Homo sapiens: one gene and its partners. The gene in region 3 interacts genetically with the main gene of each other region. Each region holds a gene or a part of one and is shown on either strand. Other genes may lie near its edges. The genes, in order: TRAPPC12, SEC24A, CAND1, RICTOR, SLC39A3, UBE2J1 and RAB1A.

Region 1 (3,186 bases), on a different chromosome or scaffold from region 3:
GAATGTGACAGCGAGCTCTGTTATCATGGCAGCAGCAGAAACTTAACAGAATGCTGTCCTCTGTCTCGATGAGAAACAAGCTGAATGCGCGCGGCTCACCTCCATGAGGAGGGCTGGGGCACCCATCACTATCATACTGAGCAGCCTAGTTAACTCTTAGACTGTCCACGCCAAGCATCTGTCCAGCATTAAAACAAGCCTGCTAACTTCTCAGATGACTGGTGGGGAGATGGTTCTCCATGGGTGTCATGTTTCTGCATGTCTTCCAAGCACAGACAGTGACAAGGCTTTGTTCAAAGCATTTACACAAGGATGCCTGTTTAGAGGACAGCCTTGTAAGCTAAACTGCATCCCTCTGGGGCAAAGGGCAGGCAGGCTCGCCTCCCAGTAGCAAGGATTTGGGTGTTCTAAGTTCAGGATTCCTCTCCAGCCACACAGCCCACTGCAGGCCTCATGAGGCCCTCGGTGAAGACCCTGAGGAATCAGGGCCCCGTGGCTGGTGGGAAGAATGCCACTCTGGCTGTACTGCTGTTGCTGTGTAATAAATAGCCTTCCTCTCTAACGTAGGAATCTTACATTTTTTGCCAGCATCCATGAAAGTGGCAGCTAACTCCACAGCTTGGAAACAGGATAACATCTCAGGCCCTTCACAACTGTTGCTGTTATCCCACAAAAGAAATACCATACGAGGAGGAAGAAAAAACAGAATGAAACAAGAGAAAACACAGGCGTGCACACACACCACACACTGAATGGCATCTGTCCATCGCTGCCCGTCGTCTGCACAGTCCGAAGCCGTTTGAAGTCCACTACTATCGATTTCCCACTTGCGGACTAAAAAGAAACCGAAGGCAGCATGGGCTCCGTGACGCGGCCCTCAGCTCGAACGCCTGCATCTCCTGTCTAACAGGACCGTGTGAGACACTGAACTGAAGATGATTACAGCCCATCATCAAGACCGATCAAGATTAACGTGTGCCGGCGGCCGTGGCAAGCGCTTACAAGCACAGCTCGCCTGACCCTCGCGACAGCCTGGGATGCAGATGCTGTCGCTAGCTTCGCTTTCTAGATGAAGTCGTCGGGCTTGGAAAGATGAGACAATTTTCTGAGGTCACACAGCTAACACAGAACACTGTGGTCAACACCCAGGCTGTCCAACGCCCAGACCGTGTGCTGATCCTCCGCACTGCAAGGCCTCCTGAGGCTGGCATGGGACTTTACTCAATGTCTCAGAGGAAGATAACAGAGAAATCTTGGGATATTCTTTGCTACCCACTGACTTTCCTGATGATTAGAAAGTAACTTGACATTTTCAGAATTATTAAAATGTAATTAGGATACAAAATCCTACCGATTTCTAAAAGTTAGGAGCAACTGAAAAAATTAAACATAAAAATGCAATTAAAAGTATTCCAGAATATGTAGAAAACAAATCAGTAAAAGACACTATTAAAAAGGAAATACAGTGGCTGGGCATGGTGGCTCACACCTGTAATCTCAGCCCTTTGGGAGGCCGAGGTGGGAGGATCGCTGAATTTCAGGAGTTCAAGACCAGACCGGGCAACAAAGTGAGACCTTGTCTCCATTAAAAAAGAAAAGAAAATTAGCCAGGTGTGGCTGTAAGCACCAGGTGTGGCCGTAAGCACTGTGGTCCCCAGCTACATGAGAGGCTAAGGCAGGTGAATCTCTTGAGCCCAGGAGTTCTGCAGTGAATCATACCTGTGCCACTGCACTCCAGCCTGGCAGACAGAGCAAGATCCTGTCTCACAAAGAAAAAGACAAAAAACAGTGTATAAACTAATCCAGAAAAAGGAAGCATAAACAGAAATGTAAAAGTAGAAATAGCTACAGGCAGAACAAGGAAATGGAAATAATGGTAAGAGCACTGTCTTTTACTCTGTGCGAATCCACGAGAAAACAGGGACCAAACAGGTGGCTTTCTAGAAAACTCTCAGTTACCAAAATGGTTCCCAGAAACACAGAAAAATCCTCAGGCACACAACACTAAGGCAGATTCATAATAATAAATTAGGAAAAGCACACAGCACACCTCATGTGCTCAGCAAAGGCAATTCTTAGGTGAATACTCAAACCTTCAGGGAATAGATCATTCCACATTACTCAAGTTTTCCAGAGAGAGAGAAAGCAAGCTTCTAACTTATATGAAGACAGAAAACAGCCACCATATCCTTTTGAGATGTCACCTGTGCACACGCAAACCAGATACTAACATCACTTATAAACGCAGAAACCCGGGGAAACGCCGCCCTGGAGCTCCGACCTTAAGAGCAACACATGGTCAGTGTTTCCGTGGCAGAAACTGGAACTGTGCGCTGGGTCTGGCCCTCCCCTCCTTGGGCGCTGTCAAGGTTAATACTGAGTGTCAATTTAATTGAAGGATGCAAAGTATTGATCCTGGGTGTGTCTGTGAGGGTGTTGCCAAAGGAGATGAACACTTGAGTCAGTGGGCTGGGGGAGGCCGACCCGCCCTTAATCTGGGTAGGCACCATCTCTTCAGCTGCCATCACAGCCAGAATAAAGCAGGCAGAAGTTGGAAAGAGCAGACTTGCCGAGGTTCTGGGACTTGGACTGGCTTCCTTGCTCCTCAGCTATTGTGGGACCTCACCTTGTGATCGAGAGTCAATTCTCCTAATAAACTCCCCTTCATAGATTCATCTATTCTATGAGTCCTGTCCCTCTAGAGAGCCCCAACTAATACAGGCACTGAGGGGTGGGGGAGAGCTCCAGTTCTCAGCTCCTTCACCTGCTTCTCTGTCACAGTTTTGGGATTCCTCATCACCTTGGTGGCACGGAAGCCATTACAGATGGGCAATGGCCATTTTAAAGTGTTCTCAAGGCGGAGTGTCCTGCAGTCCATGGCTGTGAGCTGTTGACTGGAGAGGAAGGCAAGAATGATTCTTCTCTGTGGTGTGGGAGTCAGATGATTTTAAACCATCCAAAGACAGAACAGCTATGTTAACAGCCACATAGGTTGCTAGATGATATTAAATCTGTAGTCAGCTAGAAAACCCAGTTCTTTTCATATTTACCACTGATCAACTTTAGTCACAGAAGCATAGGTCTGCAATTGATACAGAAAACTCATTTCAGCTGGGCCCAGTGGCTCATGCCTGTAATCCCAGCACTTTGGGAGGCAGAGGCAGGAGGATTGCTTGAGGCCAGGAG
Region 2 (3,312 bases), on a different chromosome or scaffold from region 3:
ATTCATTTATTCACTTGTTGCTGTATATGCAACAGGAATTCATAATATGATAATGCAGATTCTGTTCTGTCTTCTATCATGTTTTGAAGGAAGTTTGCTTTCATTGGACTCTCATCCCTTAGGAATAAAAGGCAAAAAAATTTAGATAAAATGTAGCAGTAAAATAGACTTGTCAGAAGGCTTTTGATTTCCTCATAACCCTAATAACATTTACTATATAAACAGTTACTTCTAGAGGCTTTCTCTGAGAATACTTGGTTGATTATGTAAATTTCAAGTTGTTTAAGGGAAAAGCTTATGGTGGAATTAAGAGAAATAGTTGATCCAGAAATTCCATTTCTGAATATATATCCAAAGGAATTGAAATCAGTATATCAAAGAGATGTCTGCACTTCCATGATCACTGCAGCATTAATCACAATAGCCACGATATGGAAATAACTGAATGGATTTTTCAAATGTGGTATATATATACAATGGAATTCTACCGAGCCTTTTTTTTTTTTTTGAGATGGAGTTTTACTCTTGTTGCCCAGGCTGGAGTGCAATGGCACGATCCTGGCTCACCACAACCTCCACCTCCTGGGTTCAAGCTATTCTCCTGCCTCAGCCTCCCGAGTAGCTGGGATTACAGGCATGTGCCACCATGCCAGGCTAATTTTGTATTTTTAGTAGAGACGGGGTTTCTCCATGTTGGTCAGGCTGGTCTCGAACTCCCAACCTCAGGTGATCTGCCCGCCTCGACCTCTCAAAGTGCTGGGATTACAGGCATGAGCCACCGCGCCCGGCGACTTCAGCCTTTAAAAAACAGGAAATTCTGTCATTTGTGACATTATGCTGAGTGAAATAAACCAGGCACAGAGAGACAAACACCACACGATCTTACTTATGTGTGGAACCTAAAAAAGTTGAACTCATATAAGTAGAAAGTAGAATTATGGTTATTAGAGGCTAGGAGGCAGGAAGTGGCTATGGAGAAGGAAAGAAGAAATGTTAGTCAAAGGGTACAAAATTTCAGTTAGGATGAATGGATTCTGGTGATCTATTACACAGTATGATGACTATGGTTAATAATGATGTATTGTATATTTTAAAATAGGCAAAATAATGGATTTTAAATGTTCTCACCACAAGGAAACAATAATTGGCTGAGAAGATGAATATGTTAATTAGCCGAATTTGATCATTCCACAATGTATACATGTATCAATAAATTAGTGTACCCCATAAATATATACACTTATTATTAGTCAATTAAAAATGAAAAAAGTTCTGTATTTCCAATCATTGGATATAAGGTATGATTTACTGCTATTTATTGAGAAGAACTCTTTTTCTTTCTTCTTTTTTTTTGCTATACTCTTGTCAGGTCCTGGCAAGGCCAAACAAATTGTTTTACTACTAGCAAATGGAAAATTCAACTTACCTTATTACATAAAGTATTGGGAAAAATGGTCTCTGCTCTCTAAGCCAAGAGATGAAAGCTATTATTCTGGCAGATTCTGGTGTATCAAGTTCTGGAAGGTCTGTCTGTTAACCAAAACCAACAATATCCAATTACTTTAATTACATATCTAATGTATGGTCTATGGTACTTTTCAAATTTTTATTTTTTTAATTACATTTTTTTTCTTTTTTGAGACAAGGCCTCTGTTGACAGGCTGGAGTGCAGTGGCATAATCATGGCTCACTGCAGTCTCAACCTCCAGGCTCCGGTGATCCTCCCACCATAGCCTTCTGAATAGTTGGGACTACAGATGCGTGCCACCATGCCTGGCTAATTTTTATATTTCTTGTAGAGATGGGTTTTGCCATGTTGCCCAGGCTGATTTCGAACTCCTGGGCTCAGGCGATACACCTGCCTCGGCCTCCCGAAGTGCTGGGATTACAGGAGTGAGCCACAGTGCCCGGTCTACTTCTCAAATTTAACTTATTTTTTGAGACAAGGTCTTGCTCTGTTGCCCAGGCTGAAGTGCACTGGTGTGATCATGGCTCACTGTAACCTCCACTGCCTCCTGAGGCTCAAGTGATTCTCTCACCTCAGCCCCACCAAGTAGCTGGAATAAGAGGCGTGTGCCACCTGCCAGGTAATTTTTGTATTTTTAGTAGAGACGAGTATCTCACCACGTTGCTCAGGCTGGTCTTGAACTCCTGGGCTTAAGCAATCTGCCCACCTCGGCCTCCCAAAGTTCTGGGATAACAGGTGTGAGCCACCATGCCTGGTCTTGAATTTTAACATGTATATGAATCACCTGATCATCTTCTTGAACTACAGATAATGATTTAGGAGGTCTGGGGCAGGGTTGTGGTCCTGAGATTTTGCTTTCCTAAAAAATTCCTGCAGTGATGCCAGTGCAACTTGACTTGGGAACACAATTTTCTACGAATATTCTAGAACAGGAGTAGGCAAACTTCTTAAAGGCCCATATAGTAAGTACTTTAGGCTTGCAGATCATTTGGTCTCTGCTGCAACTACTTAACTTTGCCATTGTTTTTTATTTTTTGAGACAGAGTTTCGCTCTTGTTGCCCAGGCTGGAGTGCAATGGCGTGATATTGGCTCACTGCAACCTCTGCCTCCCAGATTCAAGCGATTCGCCTGCCAGAGATTCTCCTGCCTCAGCCTCCAGAGTAGCTGGGAGAGTAGTTGGGATTACAGGTGTGCGCCACCACACCCGGCTAATTTTGTATTTTTAGTAGAGATGGGGGTTTCTCCATGTTGGCCAGGCTGGTCTCGAACTCCTGACCTCAGGTCATTCGCCCACCTCGCCTTGAGACGGGGGTTTCTCCATGTTGGGCAGGCTGGTCTTGAACTCCCGACCTCAGGTGATTCGCCAGCCTCGGCCTCCCAAAGCGCTGAGATTACAGGTGTGAGCCACCACGCCCGGGCAACCTTGCCATTGTTACACCAAAGTAGCCATAAACAATACATAAGTGAACAGGCATGGATGTTCCAATAAAACCTTATTTACAAAAACAAGTAGCAGGTACCCCTTGGGCATAGTTTCTAAGCCCTCATCTAAAAAAACCTCTTAGTTCTTCCCTTCATTTTAGCATGACGTCAAGAATTAATTGATTCGTTCAGTTATTATTAAAAATATAACAATTTCTTACTCATTACCTAAAACGCTTAGTCATCCAGCCCAGTAGTTCTGTTTAAGGCCTGAAAGCCAGTGCTTATCCTAGCTATAATCCTGACACAGCAGTCTTTTATTTATTTATTTTTTGAGACAGGTTCTTGCTCTGTTGCCCAGGCGGGAGTGCAGCAGCATAATCACTGCTCACTTCAGCCTCAACCTCCCAGGTCCTAGCAC
Region 3 (3,500 bases):
TCCTATCTTTAATCCAGATCTCACTTGTGAATCCAGATTCATATGCAACTGCTTAATTAATATTGCTGCTTGGATATCTAAAATATCTTTTCCCTGCCCCTTCCCCATCTCCCACCTAACCTGTTCTTCTTTAGCCTTTTCCATCTCAGAATGGTACCTCTATTCTTCTTAGTTGATCAGGCCAAAAACCTTGCAGTCATACCTGATTCCTTTTTCACACATCCCTCAGCTAGTCTTCCACCTCAGAACTATCTTTCATTTTATTGTTTTTATTTTGTTTATCACACTTAGTAACTTTCTGACATACTGTAATTGATGGTCTCCTACCTATTAGAATATAAGTTTCATGAAGGCTAGATGTTTTAATCTCTTGATTGACTGCTTTATTCCAGTGCCTAGGACAGTACTTGACACACAGGCAATCAATAAATGGGTTGTATTAATGAAGGGAAACTTTAGCTTATATTTTAATATGAATATCTTTTGAAGAAAGCAGTAGCAATGTATATTCCAGGTTTTGAATTTTGTTTTTTTGTGTGCTGTATAACAAACTAGGTACTTCACCTGCTTTATCACTTAGTATGAATTATACCCATTAAATGACTTTTCTACCATGGTGTTTTTGTGATTTATAAAATCAACGTAATTTTAGTGAATAAGGACATTTGTTAATTTTTTATAATCTTGTTTTTAATAAAGCTTATATTTCTGGGAGGCAATTGCCATAGTGTATTGACATGGAAAAAATTTTATGTGCTCTTAACTTGATAGTGTATTTTGGCAGTATCTTTTAACTTTATTTGAATAGATATTGGTAAATAAGCAAACGTCTTGCATTTAGCAGTATTTGGTTGTATTTTCCTGTAATGTGCTAAGGTGAATTTTAAGCTTTTGAGTTGGAAAATTTTATTATTTTGTTGTATACTGTAGAATCTTCTAAGGCCTAGCTGGCTACATTTGACTGTCAAACTAAGCTAATTGGAATAAAAGCCAGTAAAAAGTTACTACTCCGCTCTATTATTTCAAGGCTATGTATAGTCTTATCTAAGAATAAAGAAATTATTGTGAGATAATTTTAGACTATCATGATAACTGCTAATATTTCTGCCACCTTTCTGACTTCATATTACCCAACTAATTAAACCTGATGGTGTTAGAAAGAAAGATTTTCTGGAGATTTCACACACATGTTATCCATCAAGTATAGATAAGTGAGATACAATTCTTAGTGCTTTTGCTTTGAATGTTTAAGGTTTAGCATTAGGGGAAAAAATGGTCCTCTGTTAAGTGTGCAGCATTTTCTTGGTATAATTAAGCAAAAATGGTTTTGTTAAAGTACATTAAGACAAAATTGTGAAAGGTTTAGAATATACATATTTGTTCCTCACAGCTTATCAACAAGTTGAGTGAAAAGCCTTGTAGTCACAAAGCTGATGTCAACCTTCTTTTTATTCCCAGCAAATTAGTTCTACAGTGTTTTGGGATTGGTAACCATTCTTTTTATCACCTACTCTATTACCACAAATCCATTTCATGGTTTGTCTTATAAAGTCCCTGATTGTTTGCTTGATTTTTCCTATGCTGTTAAGTAAGTTCTTTGAATTTTGTTTCAAAGGCTGGGAAATTTATGACTATAAATATTTATATTCTAAAGAAGTTGAATGTGTTAATTGATGATTTTAAAGGGTTAAAATAAGCAGCAGTTCATTACAAAGTAAATGAGAAAATGTTTAACTAATTAAAAATACCATTATGTTTGTTTTTTAAGTTTAATTTATGTGCAGATTTACAGAAATAACAAGCTCTTTGTTCAAGTTCTAGTTCTGTTGAAACCTACCTGTTGCTGTATATGTTACCGGAAAGTTAGATTAACTGATTTGGTTAAGAATATCAATTGATTTTCTGTTTTAAATGATATACTTCTCTTGTCATTAATAGCCTGTTTACATTAAAACTTACCCTTAGGGAGTGATGATGAATACAGTGATGATGATGACATGAGTTGGAAAGTGAGACGTGCAGCTGCGAAGTGCTTGGATGCTGTAGTTAGCACAAGGCATGAAATGCTTCCAGAATTCTACAAGACCGTCTCTCCTGCACTAATATCCAGATTTAAAGAGCGTGAAGAGAATGTAAAGGCAGATGTTTTTCACGCATACCTTTCTCTTTTGAAGCAAACTCGTCCTGTACAAAGTTGGCTATGTGACCCTGATGCAATGGAGCAGGGAGAAACACCTTTAACAATGCTTCAGAGTCAGGTGGGTTTTAAAGTAAAGTTTAGAAAATCATGATAGTAAATGCAATGCTTTTAAAATTGTCTTTATATGGAAAGGTGAGTTCCAGAATATCTATAGAGAAGCAGAAAGTTCTAGGATATGTTTATATAGTTAATGCATGTTCATATTATGTTAGTTGTAAACTATTCTAATTGAATTATTCTTGGCTTTACATGATAAACAATATTTAAATAATTTTAAGATTCAGTAAAGTAGTCTTTATCTTTGATGTTAATAGAGAAGTCTTAGAGCTGTGGAGTCATACTACTTGCGATCACATAACTGACTTCATTTCTAATTTAGGTGTGTGATCTTGGGCAAGTTATTTAGTCATTTTATTAAACCTCACTTTTCTTATTTGTAATAAGAACGTACTTAGAAATATCTACCTGTGGTTGTGAGAGCTGGGTGATCTGTGTAGAGCATTCAGTGTAGTGCCTACTACATATATGCTTGATATATGCCAGTACTTACTAATAAAATACACATTTTTTCACTTGAGGGCATTTGTTTTCTAAGATCCTAAACATTAGAGCTATTATATGCTCCCATTTATTGAATATTTATTACATACCAGGCATTCTCCTATCTTATATGTAATCTCTACAGCAGCCCTATGGGATGCACAAATAGTAGGTCAATTTTTATAGATTACAAAACAGATATTGCCAGGGATTAAACCAGTGGAGAGGACGGGACACACATACTGTATCTATCTTGTTTTTAAGTAGTACAAATAAATACATTTTTGTGGTGAACTTACTCATAAAGGTGAATGTTGAAGATTAATTGTAGAAGGAAATGAGATAAAGTGTATGGAGGACATATGCAAGTGAGTGAGTATATAGAAGTCAGGTATTGCTCAGTAGAGTTGCCAGGAATTCTGACAATGCTATGGAAAGTCAGACATTTTTTTTGTTTTGTCTAGTTCTTAGATCATTGTGTAATTAGGGTATGTGTCCATGTAGTTTGGTTGTTGGGATTTTTCTTGGCTTTTTGTTTTTACTCTGTACTTGCTTTGCTGTTGAGGTATTCTAGAAGCTCCGTTGATAGCTTTGCATCCGTAAGATTTGTTAGTAGAGACCCTGTTTGTTTTACTGACTAGCAAAACATTAGGAAGTTTAGAGCAGATGTCTTTTAATCATACCCCTGCTGCTTGTAGCTACATTTGAAGTGAGGTTGATTCCTTCTAACAGCAAATGGAAAGTAAGAAAAGGACCTGTT
Region 4 (3,500 bases), on a different chromosome or scaffold from region 3:
TTGTTTGTTAACTAACTTGTGGAAAGCAGGAATCAGTGTCTCTAAGGCTGCATCCTATTACCACAATGGGGTGTGCTATAACTGCTGGTATTAGAGAGGGAACTTTGGCCCTTTCACGTTTTTCTTAATGTTTGTAACACTACTTCAGAGGTTTATAACCTCAAAGCAGAAGAAGAGCCTCAACAACCCGGGACTTATAAGTTATTTTTATGTTACTAGACTTGCATAAAGATTCTTGTTTTCCAACTCTTCATTTTGTTGCAATGTGTTATTACAGGATATATGAACCAATTAAGGTTTTTCACTACAGTTCTTGAATAAAATTTAAAAATCATTTTTTATTTTAATTAAAAATATTTCCCATTTATAGAATGCATATATTTGCAATGGACTTCCACTTTCATCAACTTTCCATCTCATCGCTTTAAACAGGAACTTGAACAAGCACTGTTAGTTTAGACCTAAAGGATAGGAAAGCATTAAATAATACTTTGGATCTCCTGAGGAAAAGATAAGTTTGCTTGCAATTTACACATTCCATGGGGAAAGAAGAGCCATATTTCCTTAAAAAAAACATTAATAAAGCTTGTTATTGAGAAAAATTGTAGTGAAAAGCCTTAAGTACCAAATTTTAAAGCAGCAGTAACTTAATTTTTATATCAGTGTTTTTGTTTTGCACAAACTAAATGCAGTGGTAGGTGGGTTTATGAGTATATTAATTGCCTTTATCCATTTGTGAAGTTAAGTTGATGAGGGCAAGGTTTTTGTTTGTTTAATTTGTATATGTCTAAAGGTATTTGGAACTTTTTACAGGAATTAAACATATATGCAAATTTGTATATAAAAATAGCATGGCCATCATTTGAATGCTTGTAAATGAAAGGATTATCTTTTTTGAGATCTATATATAAATAGAAATAGAAAATCCAGCTGGACTGATTAGGATTCTTTTTTAATTCATTTGTGTATAACATTTTTATTACAATTACACATCAGTTTTGACACAGTCATAGCAACATTAATATTTTCCCATGATGCAGATCCTTTTTGTAATGGGCTTGTTCTTTGAGATCTCTGTAAAGAACCCTGTGAACTAGAAAACATAACTCACAGAGATACTTTTTTAAAAAATTTATTTACTGGAACTGAAAGTTCCAGTTGGGATGAAGCATTTCATCTCACTTCATAACACCTCTTTGACTGCACTTCAGTGAATTGTTCTTATGTGCACTGTGTAGCAACTTACATTATAACAAAGCAGATAAGGGCTGTAAGCTGCTGCTTATGTTGAAAAGTGGTTCTTCAGATTTTCTCTCATAAAATCCAGTTGAAGATAAATAATTTTTTTATACTTTATCACTGAACCCAAGTGTTTATTTAAATGTCAACAGTACTTCTAAGAACGTTGCCTGTCATCGTGGTCTTTGGTCTTGGATAACTAAACTGCCTTTCCAGAGAACCAAATGTCAGAGTTACTAGACCAAATAGTGGTTAAAACCTCCAAAGGAAGTAATGTAATCTTATTCATAATGGGATTAACATATTTTAGACATTCATTTTAAACACTACCTCAGTTAATATAGAGTATAAAAATCTGTGGTTTAATCCCTCAAAAGTTAACAGTAATTTTTTTTTTGTCTTACACACACACACACCCCCTCCCCCACCATCACTATCCCTGTACCCTCACCTTGGTCATCTATCCTGAAATAAGGCTTAGTTAGTATTGGCCTGAATGTTTTGTGTTTTTTTTTTTGTTTTTTTTTTTTACTGTTACTTTGAAAAATATGTATGTATACCTTATCATATCTGCCTATATCACTTACTTTGGGGAGATACTCAGAGCTTTGTGGTTATCAGTATACTAAAAAAAAAAAAAAGTCTACGCTTAAATTTATAGTGCTATTTGGTTTCTCCATGATTTCACTGACAGGTCTAATACATTTTCTTTGAGTACTTGTTTGTAAAAAGTAGACTTTATGGTGAAAAATACATGCAGTGCCAAGTGATTAACTTAAGTGTTTAAAAATATTAAATTATAGCAGAAGAGGTTAGGAATGATATCAGCAGTAATAGAAATAATTGAGAAAATCATCTATAAATAATAGATATTACAGACTATAGAATACCAAAATAATGTCAATACTGTAGTTTTTAAAGATTTTAGGATTAATCTTAGTCCATATAAATTTGTACTATTGGTAATTATTGAATAATTGGGAGGAATCTGGGCAGTTGTGCTGGTTGTAAACTATGAATTTCTAATCGTAAAGTGAATTGTTATTTCTAATTGAACTTTTTTTCAAGAACAGATTTCAGCCTCACATACTAAGTAAATACTGATAAATAAGGAAATTAGAAATTTAGTATTCATAATTAAATATGCTCTAAAATTTCCTATACTTTTATTTCCTGTTTATTCTTAGGTAGATTGGAAGGGGGAAACAGTCTGTTCTCCCTAATTAAATTTTTTCTAATAACGATTAGTAGAATATGGACATTCTATATGACAGTGACATTAAAAGAGGCTCTTTGGAAGTATATACATTATTAACATAATGTGTACAAGTCCTTTTGAAATGACAACTTTAATGGGTTTCAGCTCTTTTATCTAGAGCTTGAGATAATTCAAGCTGAGTTTTTCAGGGCATATCACAACGGCCAAGTGTTCAGCAGTGGGATATCAATGCTTATTTACATTTTCCTACTGCTATTTATATAAAATGTTATTCCATTCAGAGGATGCCTTTTATCCCCACATTAAAGCACAGATCATTAAGCAATAAAAACCAAATTGTCTGTCATTCAAATTATAACTGCAGTTATTTTTGCATGGTAAGAGTGAGGTGCTAATTTTGTGTGAGATGAACTTTGTAAACTACTTTGGGAAATGTTCTTTGGAAGTAAGGTTTTTTCTCCTTTAGTCTTATGCTTCCACTTTTGTCTCAGATTCACAATCCATTAAAACATGGGGAAAAAAGAAAAGGTAAAATTGAGAGACTTTTGTTAGAGGAGCTATTTGGAATGAACCAACATTTCAGATTTTCCAAAATGTAAGTTAGGAAGTCTCCATTGTCTCTGCATTAACAAAATACACTGTTACTATCTTAATCTCAAGAGTGTCATTACAGTGAGAATCTCATTTAAAAGCATACCAGTGAAATTAATAGCAGTGCTTATCAAAGAACACTGAAATCTGTGAGAATCTTTCTAGGAGCATTCTTTTCTTCTTTTAGTTCCAAGTTCCAGGGTATTTTTCATTCCTAGTAGGTTTATATGACTCACAGAATGTGGACTTTTTTCCTGTTTGGAGTATTTTTGTAATGTAAGTATCGGATAGCTGCACCACAGCATGCATAAATTGCACATTTTGTTTTACTTTCTTTATAGAATATTTAATTTCAAAAATATAATTTATGCCAAAAAAAGCATACCTTTCAATTTTGCTACTTGGTTGATTTAGCACAAAATGCAAAGTCTTGGGGCAGAGAGGGGGAGTG
Region 5 (2,497 bases), on a different chromosome or scaffold from region 3:
GGCAATGTCTGGAAACATTTTTTATTTTCACAACTCGGGTAGGGGGAAGGTGCTGACATTCGGGGCTGGATTGTTCTCTGGGACGGGGCCGTCCTGGGCACTGCAGGGTGCTGCTGAGCAGTGTCTCTGGCCTCCACCCACTCCAGGCCAGGAGCACCCCCCATCGTGACAACCACAATGTCCCCAGGCATCGCCCAGTGTTCCCTGGGGGCAGTTCACGCTGGGTGAGCCTCTGCTGCAGCAGAAGGCTGTGTTTCCACGGAGAAGCCACTTAACTCCCTCACTGACCACCGGCTGGAGGCCTCATGCATGCCTCGCTTGAGGACAAGCTCATGAGGAACTCTAGCTACTCCCAAGAGACAGACGTTGATCAGGAGAGATGAGGCAGATGCACGGGAGCTGTGAACCAGGCACCATTTTCCAGGGGTGACTGAGAGCCTGGCCCTGCAGTGGGTGAGGCTGGGGGCTCGGGAGTAGGGACCTCATCCGCCTGACCAGCCCGAGGACAGGAGAACGGCGGGAAAGGTTTGGGTGCCATGAGAAGGCCACTGTGATGAGGGGGAGGGAAGAGCAAGCTCCCCGCAGTCGCCCAGGCCTGCAGTCAGAGGGTGACGGGGGTGACACCATGACCATGGGGGAAAAGGGGGGCTGGCAGTGGCCTCTGCGATGCAGGAGATGTCAGAGATGACCAAGATCTCCATCCTCGCAGTGCAGATGTCAGTCTTCACACACCGCGTAACGAACGAATGCAGACTCAGCCACGCGGAACAGCAGGAATGCGGTGTCTCGGCTCTGAACGGTGGAAATCCAGGTGCGGGCTAGCTGGGCCCTACGCTCCAGGTCTCGCAGGGTGTCATCAGGGCTGAGATCTCACTGACACCCAGGGTCCTCTTCCAAGCTCACTGGAGGTCGGAAGAGTCCACCTCCTGGTGGCTGTGGACTGAGGCCCCGTGTCCTGGCTGGCTGTTGGCGGGGATGGCTCTTGGCACCGAGAGGCTGCCCTCGGGTCCTCGCTTCATGCCCTTCTCCTGGCACACCCTGGCTTTTTGCTTCTCCAAGGCCAGCAGGAGGGTGAGTGGCTCACCTGATTAGGCCAGGCCCACCCCCTCCCTTTTGATGAACTCAGCGCTAACCGATCTGGGGCGGTCATCACAGCTGCAACATCCCCTCTGCTGGGATTCTGACATAATGGCAGGAGTGACACGCACGGCAGTCCCAGCCCTACCCACACTCGAGGGGAGGGAAGAGCATGGGGCGTGCGGAGCAGGGGCTGGAAGCTCAGGGAGCCACCCTGGAACTCTACTCTGCCACACTAACAGGCTCAGATGATTTAATCCCAGACAACAGCCCTTCTCCTCCTTTCTGGACACTAGGCACGAGGAAAAGCAGGGCCAGGGGTTGGGGGATAAGCTTAGGGCTTCCATGCTTTCGTTGGGAGGAAGAACAGGGGGTCCTCATATCTCCACCAAGTATGTAACCAACACAAATTCAATGTCACATCTGGCACTGGCCCAGAGAGAGGAAGCCACTCACCCAGGGTCACCCAGCAAGCATGGCCAGGGCTGGTCACACTGTGGCCTGACAGGGGACCCACACTCTGGGCTGCTGATATGGGGGAGCTCAAGGAACAGGTCAGCAGAGGATGATGCTGTCAGGAGTTGGGGTGGACAGACTCCAAGATGGCCCCAGAAGCCCCTGCCTCTTGACAGCCATACCCTGTGAGGTCCTGGCCACTTGAGTATGGGAAGGACTTGAACTTGCTTCTAACCAGCAGGACACTGGGGCAGAGGGGAAGGGATACCCTGTCACCTCTGCATGACATGGGACTGTGCCCTCTGTCTTACACAGAGTCATGGCCATCTTCTCCATTTGCTGATGAAGGAACTGATCATGCTGGGGAGGTCCACGTGGCCAGGCTCTGAGGGCTGCCCCAGCCAACAGACACTGACAAACAGACACCTTCGGTCTGACAACCAATGAGGAACTGAACCTGGCTTACAACCACATGAGCTTAGAGGCCGACCCATCCCCGGTTGAACGTTGAGATGAGACCACAGCCCAGGAGACACTGTGACTGCTGCCTTGTGAGCTCCTGAAGCAGTGCCCAGACCCCTGACTCACAGAAACTGTGAGATGATAAACGTCTGTAGTCCTAAGGTGCTCAGTTTGCTATAATTTGTTACGCAACAGTAGCTGACTGATATAGGAACCGAAGAGAGGCCATGCTTTCCAGCTTCAGGACAGAGTGTGCCCTACCTAGGTGGGTAGTCTGGTCTGATTATCAGGTGACAACCGACAAGTCCACCTGTTGGGAATCCCAGGTCTGGTCCAAACCCCTTGTTTGGCCGGTAGAGCACAGAGACAGAAAGTAACCAGTTCACAATCACACAGCAAATTCACTTCCTACTTTCCGTCACCCTTACAGCATCAAGGCCTTCACTGAACTTGGCATCAGTGTTGAAAATGCATCAGAGTCCCTTGGCCATAAGGTGCCAAG
Region 6 (2,598 bases), on a different chromosome or scaffold from region 3:
GTTAGAAAAACCTTTACTTAGAATTGTCCACCTAGTCAGAGCCCAAGAAAGAATTTTCAGTGGAAAAATCAATATATAACTTAGTGCTAGCTAGCGCCACAGACTCTAGTAGATAATATTATCATCATAATGGCTGGTGAAACCATATAATCACAGAAAAACATTGCCTTCAGCATGTTCAGTTCGCAGCACTGAGGGCACTCTTGAGGGTGTTGTTAATGAAGATTTAATTTTTAAATACAGGTGGTTCCAAGCTTTCAAATAGGTTATGCTCCAAAAGTGTTATTTGTAAGTTAATTTTTTTACAAGTCAAACAATGTTGGAAGTGGTATTTAGGTTCTAGATCGGTCCACGAAAGTTAGCCCATATGTATATCTTGAATAGTATAGGGGAGGGTATTCATAAAGTCCTTATGTGGTTTTAACTAAGTGAAATTATGGACAAGAGAAATAATTGTAAAATCGTCTTAAAGGAAAATTTAATTTTTACTCCTGTTTATGGGACATTCGTTCTATTAACTGTCAGACACAATTTCTGTTTTCATCTGAGAGCCAGTTTTCCTTTATTTCTACATCTAAAATAAGAACATATTGTACACTATTATATAATACAGAATTGTCTTAAACTTTAATAAATTCGCATTTTAAAGGTGTTTACAGATTATTTTTTATATCTGTAGCTGAATTTGTTAAAGTCTAAAAAGCTCAAGGACTTTATGAAGATCTCATTATATGAGGAAAATCATAGGTTACCATTTTATAACTCTATTGCCATAAGAAAATACACTCTAAAATCTTGATTTGAAACATATTAGAAACCTTGATTCAGTGCTCAGTGGTCTCCTAGTAAGAAGTCACCGACGGTAGCGTCATATGAGAAGAAAGAAATCCCCACCACCTCAACCTCTGCTGAGATTGTGTGCTAGGAACAGCCTTCCCTCCGTTTCCCCTCAGTCAAACTTGAGCCAGCCTCTGGATCGATGTGATCTTATTGCATGTTTCCATGGGGTGTACCTATACTTTAAGCCAATCCTGCTGCATTCACTGCTAAGTTAAATAAAAAGCCAAGAAGATTTTGCACTGTGCAGATCCTTTGCTATCTGACTTGCATCTCTTCCCCCACCTGTCAGCTAGCCACCTGCTTGTTTGTGTTGGGATATTTTTTAGCACCTGAAGCACCATCTGAAAGGGGCACCATTTTCTTCTTCCCTTTGATCTCACATATGCTCCCTAAAAATCCTTAAGTTGTCAATCTGATCCCCAGTGTGAGGTTAATGAGCAAAATTGGTCTTTGGGGCCCTTTTTGTCCAAGCCCCACTGAAAGGCCTCTTCAGAAAACTATTATCTTTAAAGCCCTACTTTAACTCCTTAATTCCAGCATACAGCTAAAACTGGATGTATATTCTGGCAAGTAAAGGCTGAGGACTCCTCTTTAATCCTCAGATCTAGATAACTCATGACATTTTATTTGACCAACATAGCACATGATGAGATATCAAGGTAATTAAAATAGCATGCTTGAAAAAAAAATACGTAATCTGTTTCACCTGTAACTGTTTAAGCCAATAAACTTTTCAAAATTTATGTAATGTGGGGCTTTTATGTAGCACTTTACGTTTTCATGCTGCTTATTGTTTTATTCTACTGAAAAAAATGAATTTCAAGATTCTCAACTTTTTTAATTTCAAAAATTGTTTATTGTTTTGACTATAGGAATACAAAATTTCCTATTTTGGGAGAATAAGAACTCTTTTTGTCATTTTTGGCTATGAATAAACTTTCTGGTCTTTTGAGACCACCCATTTTTATAGATCAGAATCAGAAAACAGGTAAACCTCACTCACACATTTGGACTCATTTGAACAAAAATCTAGGCCAAAATACTGAAAAGCCTATGTGTTTTTTTAATTGGAAGTATATGTAAGGTTAATGCATTTAGTGAACGTGACTAACAAAGACTAATGTGCACATTAACAGATGTACTTTTTAAGGTTTTATGGGAGGCTGTGCATTGCTCAAAAGCTGTTGGGAACGCCTTCTGAACAGTTGCCTTCAGAACTAGTTTGAGCTGCTCAATAAAACCAGTGACTTTACTCATACCTTGTTTTTGACCAAAGGTTGTATTCTTTACATCATCCAGTCTTGTCTCTCATCCATTCTACCTCCTAGAATATTTCTCTCTCATCTTTCCACTTCCCTAACTAGGCACTATATCCTATTTAGCTATTAACTCCTCCAAATTGGTGCAGTAACCTCCTAACAGGTCTCTAGTCTCACCCCATTCCTTACATTGCAGCCAGAGTTTTCAATATACAGACCTGATCTCTTCTCTCCTGTTGCTCTTAGATAGGGTGAAACCCTTAACATAAAGCACAAGGCTGTGCATGACTAGAGTCCCACCTAGGTGTCTGGCATAATCAGACCTCAGCAAATGCCTTTGGGGCCTTCCCACAGCTCTGACCTCGATCCACTGGGGCTATACCCTGCCCTGAGAAAAATGAGTAAATAAAGTTATACCATCCACTACCTCATACACCATATAAGAAAATTAACTCAAAATGGATCAAAGGCCTAAATGTAAGAGTTAAAACTATAAAAT
Region 7 (3,500 bases), on a different chromosome or scaffold from region 3:
ATCCACCCACCTCAGCCAAATTGCTGGGATTACTTGTGTGAGCCACGCGCCTGGCTTCTACTTGGCTTTTAAAGGGAATTTTGCTTTCTGAGTAATTTTATTTCTCAGGTATCTTGGTCTTTTTAATTCTGGAAGCAATCTTAATAATTTATGTATGTGCCCTGTAATCCCAGCACTTTGGGAGGCCGAGGTGGGCGAATCACGAGGTCAGGAGATCGAGACCATCCTGGCTAACACGGTGAAACCCCATCTACTAAAAATACAAAAAATTAGCTGGGCGTGGTGGCAGGCGCCTGTAGTCCCAGCTACTTGGGAGGCTGAGGCAGGAGAATCATTTGAACCCGGGAGGCAGAGCTTGCAGTGAGCCGAGATCGCGCCACTGCACTCCAGCCTGGGCGACAGAGCGAGACTCTGTCTCAAAAAAAAAAAAAAAAAAATTTACGTATGTGCTAACATCCTGCTATATTCACCTTCCATAGCAATCTGTTGGCTGTGTGTTGTGTATGTGTGTGTTTTCTCTTCTGGGTAGTTTTGACTATACCTATGTGATGGTTTCACTATTTGTAGTTTGAATAGTTCAGTTTTATTTTGGATAGTAAAGAAGAGCTTGCTTTTTTTTTTTTTTTTTTTTTGTCTGAGACGGAGTCTTGTTCTGTTGCCCAGGCTGGAGTGCAGTGGTGTGATCTGGGCTCACTGCAAGCTCTGCCTCCTGGGCTCACACCATTCTCCTGCCTCAGCCTCCCGATTAGCTGGGACTACAGGTGCCCGCCGCCAGGCCCAGCTAAATTTTTGCATTTTTTAGTAGAGATGGGGTTTCACTGTGTTAGCCAGGATGATCTCCTGACCTTGTGATCCACCTGCCTCTGCCTCTCAAAGTGCTGAGATTACAGGCGTGAGCCACCACGTCTGGCCAGAATAGCTTTCTTTTGTGGCAAGCTATATACTTTCCTAATATATGAACATGTTTAGGGTAAAATAAGATGCTTCTTAACGTTTTGAGATTTAAAAAAAATTTGCTAATCAACTTTGAGTGTCTGTTTTTTGAGATATAGGGTCTTACTCTGTCACGCAGGCTACAGTGCAGTGATGCAATCATAACTTACTATAGCCTCCAACTCCTAGCCGGGTTTCAGTGATCCTCCCACCTCAGCCTCCTGAGTAGCTGAGAATACAAGCGCGTGCCACCACACCTGGCTAATTTTTTTTTTTTTTTTGTATTTTTTGTAGGGATGGGATTTCAATATGTTGCCCCAGGCTAGTCTCAAATTCCTGGTCTCGAGATCCACCTGCCTCAGCTTCCCAAAGTGCTGGGATTATAGGCATGAGCCCCACGCTTGGCTGAGTGTCTTAAGATGAAGAAAAACTGAAAATGGGTGTAGTGTGCCAGTGCATGAGGTATTTTAAATGTGTAGCTTACCAGCTTTTTTTTTTTTTTTTTTTTTTTTTTTTTTGAGATAGAGTCTTGCTCTGTCACCCAGGCTGGAGTGCAGTGGCACAATCTTGGCTTACTGCAACGTCTGTCTCCCGGGTTCCAGCATTTCTTCTGCCTCAGCCTCCTGAGTAACTGGGACTACAGGCGTCCACCACCACGGCCAGCTAATTTTTATATTAGTAGAGATGGGGTTTCACCATGTTGGCCAGGCTGGTCTCCAACTCCTGACCTCAGGTGATCCGCCTGCCTTGGTCTCCCAAAGTGCTAGGATTACAGGCGTGAGCCACTACGTTTGGCTGCTTATCAGCTTTTTACCACTTTGTCGCCACTACATTTTGGAATTTTCCTTTGAGAATTAGGCAAAATGCCCAGACTCCCCCCCGGCCCCCGCTTTAGAGGGAGAGGGGAGCAATTAGACTATTCCTTTGTTTCCCTATAGAAGGTGGGGCTGAGATTACTGCTTTGATATCTGGAATGTAATTTAGGGAAGAAAATTTAGGTCTTGGCCTTTCTTTGGAACCACCCTGGGAGTGTTGCAGATTATTAATAGGGTAATGGTGGAATGATATTCAGGGGAAAAATGGTCCTGAGGAGCCAGAGAACTAAGTGTTAGTTTGTTGGCTGACTGAAACATGTGAGAGATAGGGTACAGAAGAAGTAGGAAATAGTTTTCCTTGGTACTTCTGTGACAGGTTGGCTCAATTGGCTGGAACACCCTACACTGCTTTATTAAATCCAAGGTTGTGATAGGTTCCAGTTAAGTTTACTGTGTTCTATGCTTGTAGATTTCCTAATTAGGACAAGTAGTGTTAAATATGCATGCCTTTATTCACAAGAGGGACCATTCTTTTGGAAACATCACTTTTTAATAATACTAGGTGCTATTTAGCACTTACTCGGTGCCAGCCACGTGGCTATGGTTTTTTTTTTTTTTTTTTTCGAGACATGATCTAGCTCTGTCTCCCAGGCTGGAGTGGTGGTAGCACAGTCATGGCTCACTGCAGTCTCAACCTCCTGTACTCTAGTGATCCTCCTGTCTCAGCCTCCTGAGTAACTGGCACCATGCCTGGCTAATTTTTTTTTAAGAGATGAGATGTCGCTATGTTGCCTATGCTGGTCTCGAACACCTGGGCTCAAGTGATCCTCCTGCCTGAGCCTCTCAAAGTGTTGGGATTACAGGTGTGACCCACCTCACTTGGCCATCTATGGTCTTTACATAGGGCATTTTGTGCAGTCTGCGTCTCAAACTAGTGATCTTCAACAGTGAAACTCAGTGAATTATGTAATTCATGTTTTCCAAGAACAATGATGGATTTAATTTCTCTGAATGTATTTCCTTTGTATAATAATAGTACTTAAGTGGAATTACTCTTTGTCCTTTCTACTCTCCTTATAGATATTTTCTGGTATCTTGATTTGGGACTGTTACATTTAACCCATTTATGGTCGTGTAGCCATACTCACGTTACATTTGATGCATCTGCTCCCTTTGTGTCTATATACTCATATAACATTTTGCATAAAGTTATAGGCAGTTCACACCAAGGCTGTTCATGAACCTCAGATTAAGAATACTTGATTTAGGAGATTGAAAACAGAAAAGAGAATGTTAACTATCATTATCAATATTAAAATGTGAAAATCTGAGAGTGACAAAGCTTAGCTTTAAATCTGGTATCCCAAACTCATTTGAGTTTTTTTTTTTTTTTTTTTTTTTTTGAGACAAGGTGTCGCTTTGTCCCCCAGGCTGGAGTGTAGTGGTGTGATCTTGGCTCACTGCAACCTCCACCTCCCAGGTTCAAGTGATTCTCCTGCCTCAGCCTCTGAAGTTGCTGGGATTACAGGCTGCGCCACCACGCCCAGCTAATTTTTTGTATTTATAGTAAAGACGGAGTTTCACCTTATTGGCCAGGCTGGTCTCAAACTCCTGATCTTGTGATCCTCCCGCCTCGGCCTCCCAAAGTGCTGGGATTACAGGTGTGAGCCACTGTTCCCGGCCTAATTTGAGTTTTAAAATGTGGAGTTTAAGATGTTAGTCTTAAAGTGGGTTAGATGAAATTTATAAAAA

The links.
Region 1: changes in CAND1 (region 3) and TRAPPC12 together harm fitness more than expected from each alone (negative genetic interaction), as found in Homo sapiens cells (one large-scale study listed by BioGRID).
Region 2: changes in CAND1 (region 3) and SEC24A together harm fitness more than expected from each alone (negative genetic interaction), as found in Homo sapiens cells (one large-scale study listed by BioGRID).
Region 4: changes in CAND1 (region 3) and RICTOR together harm fitness less than expected from each alone (positive genetic interaction), as found in Homo sapiens cells (one large-scale study listed by BioGRID).
Region 5: changes in CAND1 (region 3) and SLC39A3 together harm fitness less than expected from each alone (positive genetic interaction), as found in Homo sapiens cells (one large-scale study listed by BioGRID).
Region 6: changes in CAND1 (region 3) and UBE2J1 together harm fitness less than expected from each alone (positive genetic interaction), as found in Homo sapiens cells (one large-scale study listed by BioGRID).
Region 7: changes in CAND1 (region 3) and RAB1A together harm fitness more than expected from each alone (negative genetic interaction), as found in Homo sapiens cells (one large-scale study listed by BioGRID).

Annotation. Positions count from the first base shown.
Region 1 is NC_000002.12:3,473,694-3,476,879, reverse strand, and holds part of TRAPPC12 (trafficking protein particle complex subunit 12), read right to left. Parts: intron 1-3,186. UniProt on the Homo sapiens protein: Component of the TRAPP complex, which is involved in endoplasmic reticulum to Golgi apparatus trafficking at a very early stage.
Region 2 is NC_000005.10:134,721,785-134,725,096, reverse strand, and holds part of SEC24A (protein transport protein Sec24A), read right to left. Parts: intron 1,531-3,312; coding exon 1,427-1,530; intron 118-1,426; coding exon 3-117; 3' UTR 1-2. UniProt on the Homo sapiens protein: Component of the coat protein complex II (COPII) which promotes the formation of transport vesicles from the endoplasmic reticulum (ER).
Region 3 is NC_000012.12:67,300,358-67,303,857, forward strand, and holds part of CAND1 (cullin-associated NEDD8-dissociated protein 1), read left to right. Parts: intron 1-1,965; coding exon 1,966-2,258; intron 2,259-3,500. UniProt on the Homo sapiens protein: Key assembly factor of SCF (SKP1-CUL1-F-box protein) E3 ubiquitin ligase complexes that promotes the exchange of the substrate-recognition F-box subunit in SCF complexes, thereby playing a key role in the cellular repertoire of SCF complexes.
Region 4 is NC_000005.10:38,938,400-38,941,899, reverse strand, and holds part of RICTOR (rapamycin-insensitive companion of mTOR), read left to right. Parts: 3' UTR 1-3,500. UniProt on the Homo sapiens protein: Component of the mechanistic target of rapamycin complex 2 (mTORC2), which transduces signals from growth factors to pathways involved in proliferation, cytoskeletal organization, lipogenesis and anabolic output.
Region 5 is NC_000019.10:2,734,521-2,737,017, forward strand, and holds part of SLC39A3 (zinc transporter ZIP3), read right to left. Parts: coding exon of another isoform or gene 2,420-2,497; exon of another isoform or gene 6-2,419; intron 1-5. UniProt on the Homo sapiens protein: Transporter for the divalent cation Zn(2+). Mediates the influx of Zn(2+) into cells from extracellular space. Controls Zn(2+) accumulation into dentate gyrus granule cells in the hippocampus.
Region 6 is NC_000006.12:89,326,125-89,328,722, reverse strand, and holds the end of UBE2J1 (ubiquitin-conjugating enzyme E2 J1), read left to right. Parts: 3' UTR 1-2,098; downstream 2,099-2,598. UniProt on the Homo sapiens protein: Catalyzes the covalent attachment of ubiquitin to other proteins. Functions in the selective degradation of misfolded membrane proteins from the endoplasmic reticulum (ERAD) and is essential for cells to recover from ER stress.
Region 7 is NC_000002.12:65,120,107-65,123,606, reverse strand, and holds part of RAB1A (ras-related protein Rab-1A), read left to right. Parts: intron 1-3,500. UniProt on the Homo sapiens protein: The small GTPases Rab are key regulators of intracellular membrane trafficking, from the formation of transport vesicles to their fusion with membranes.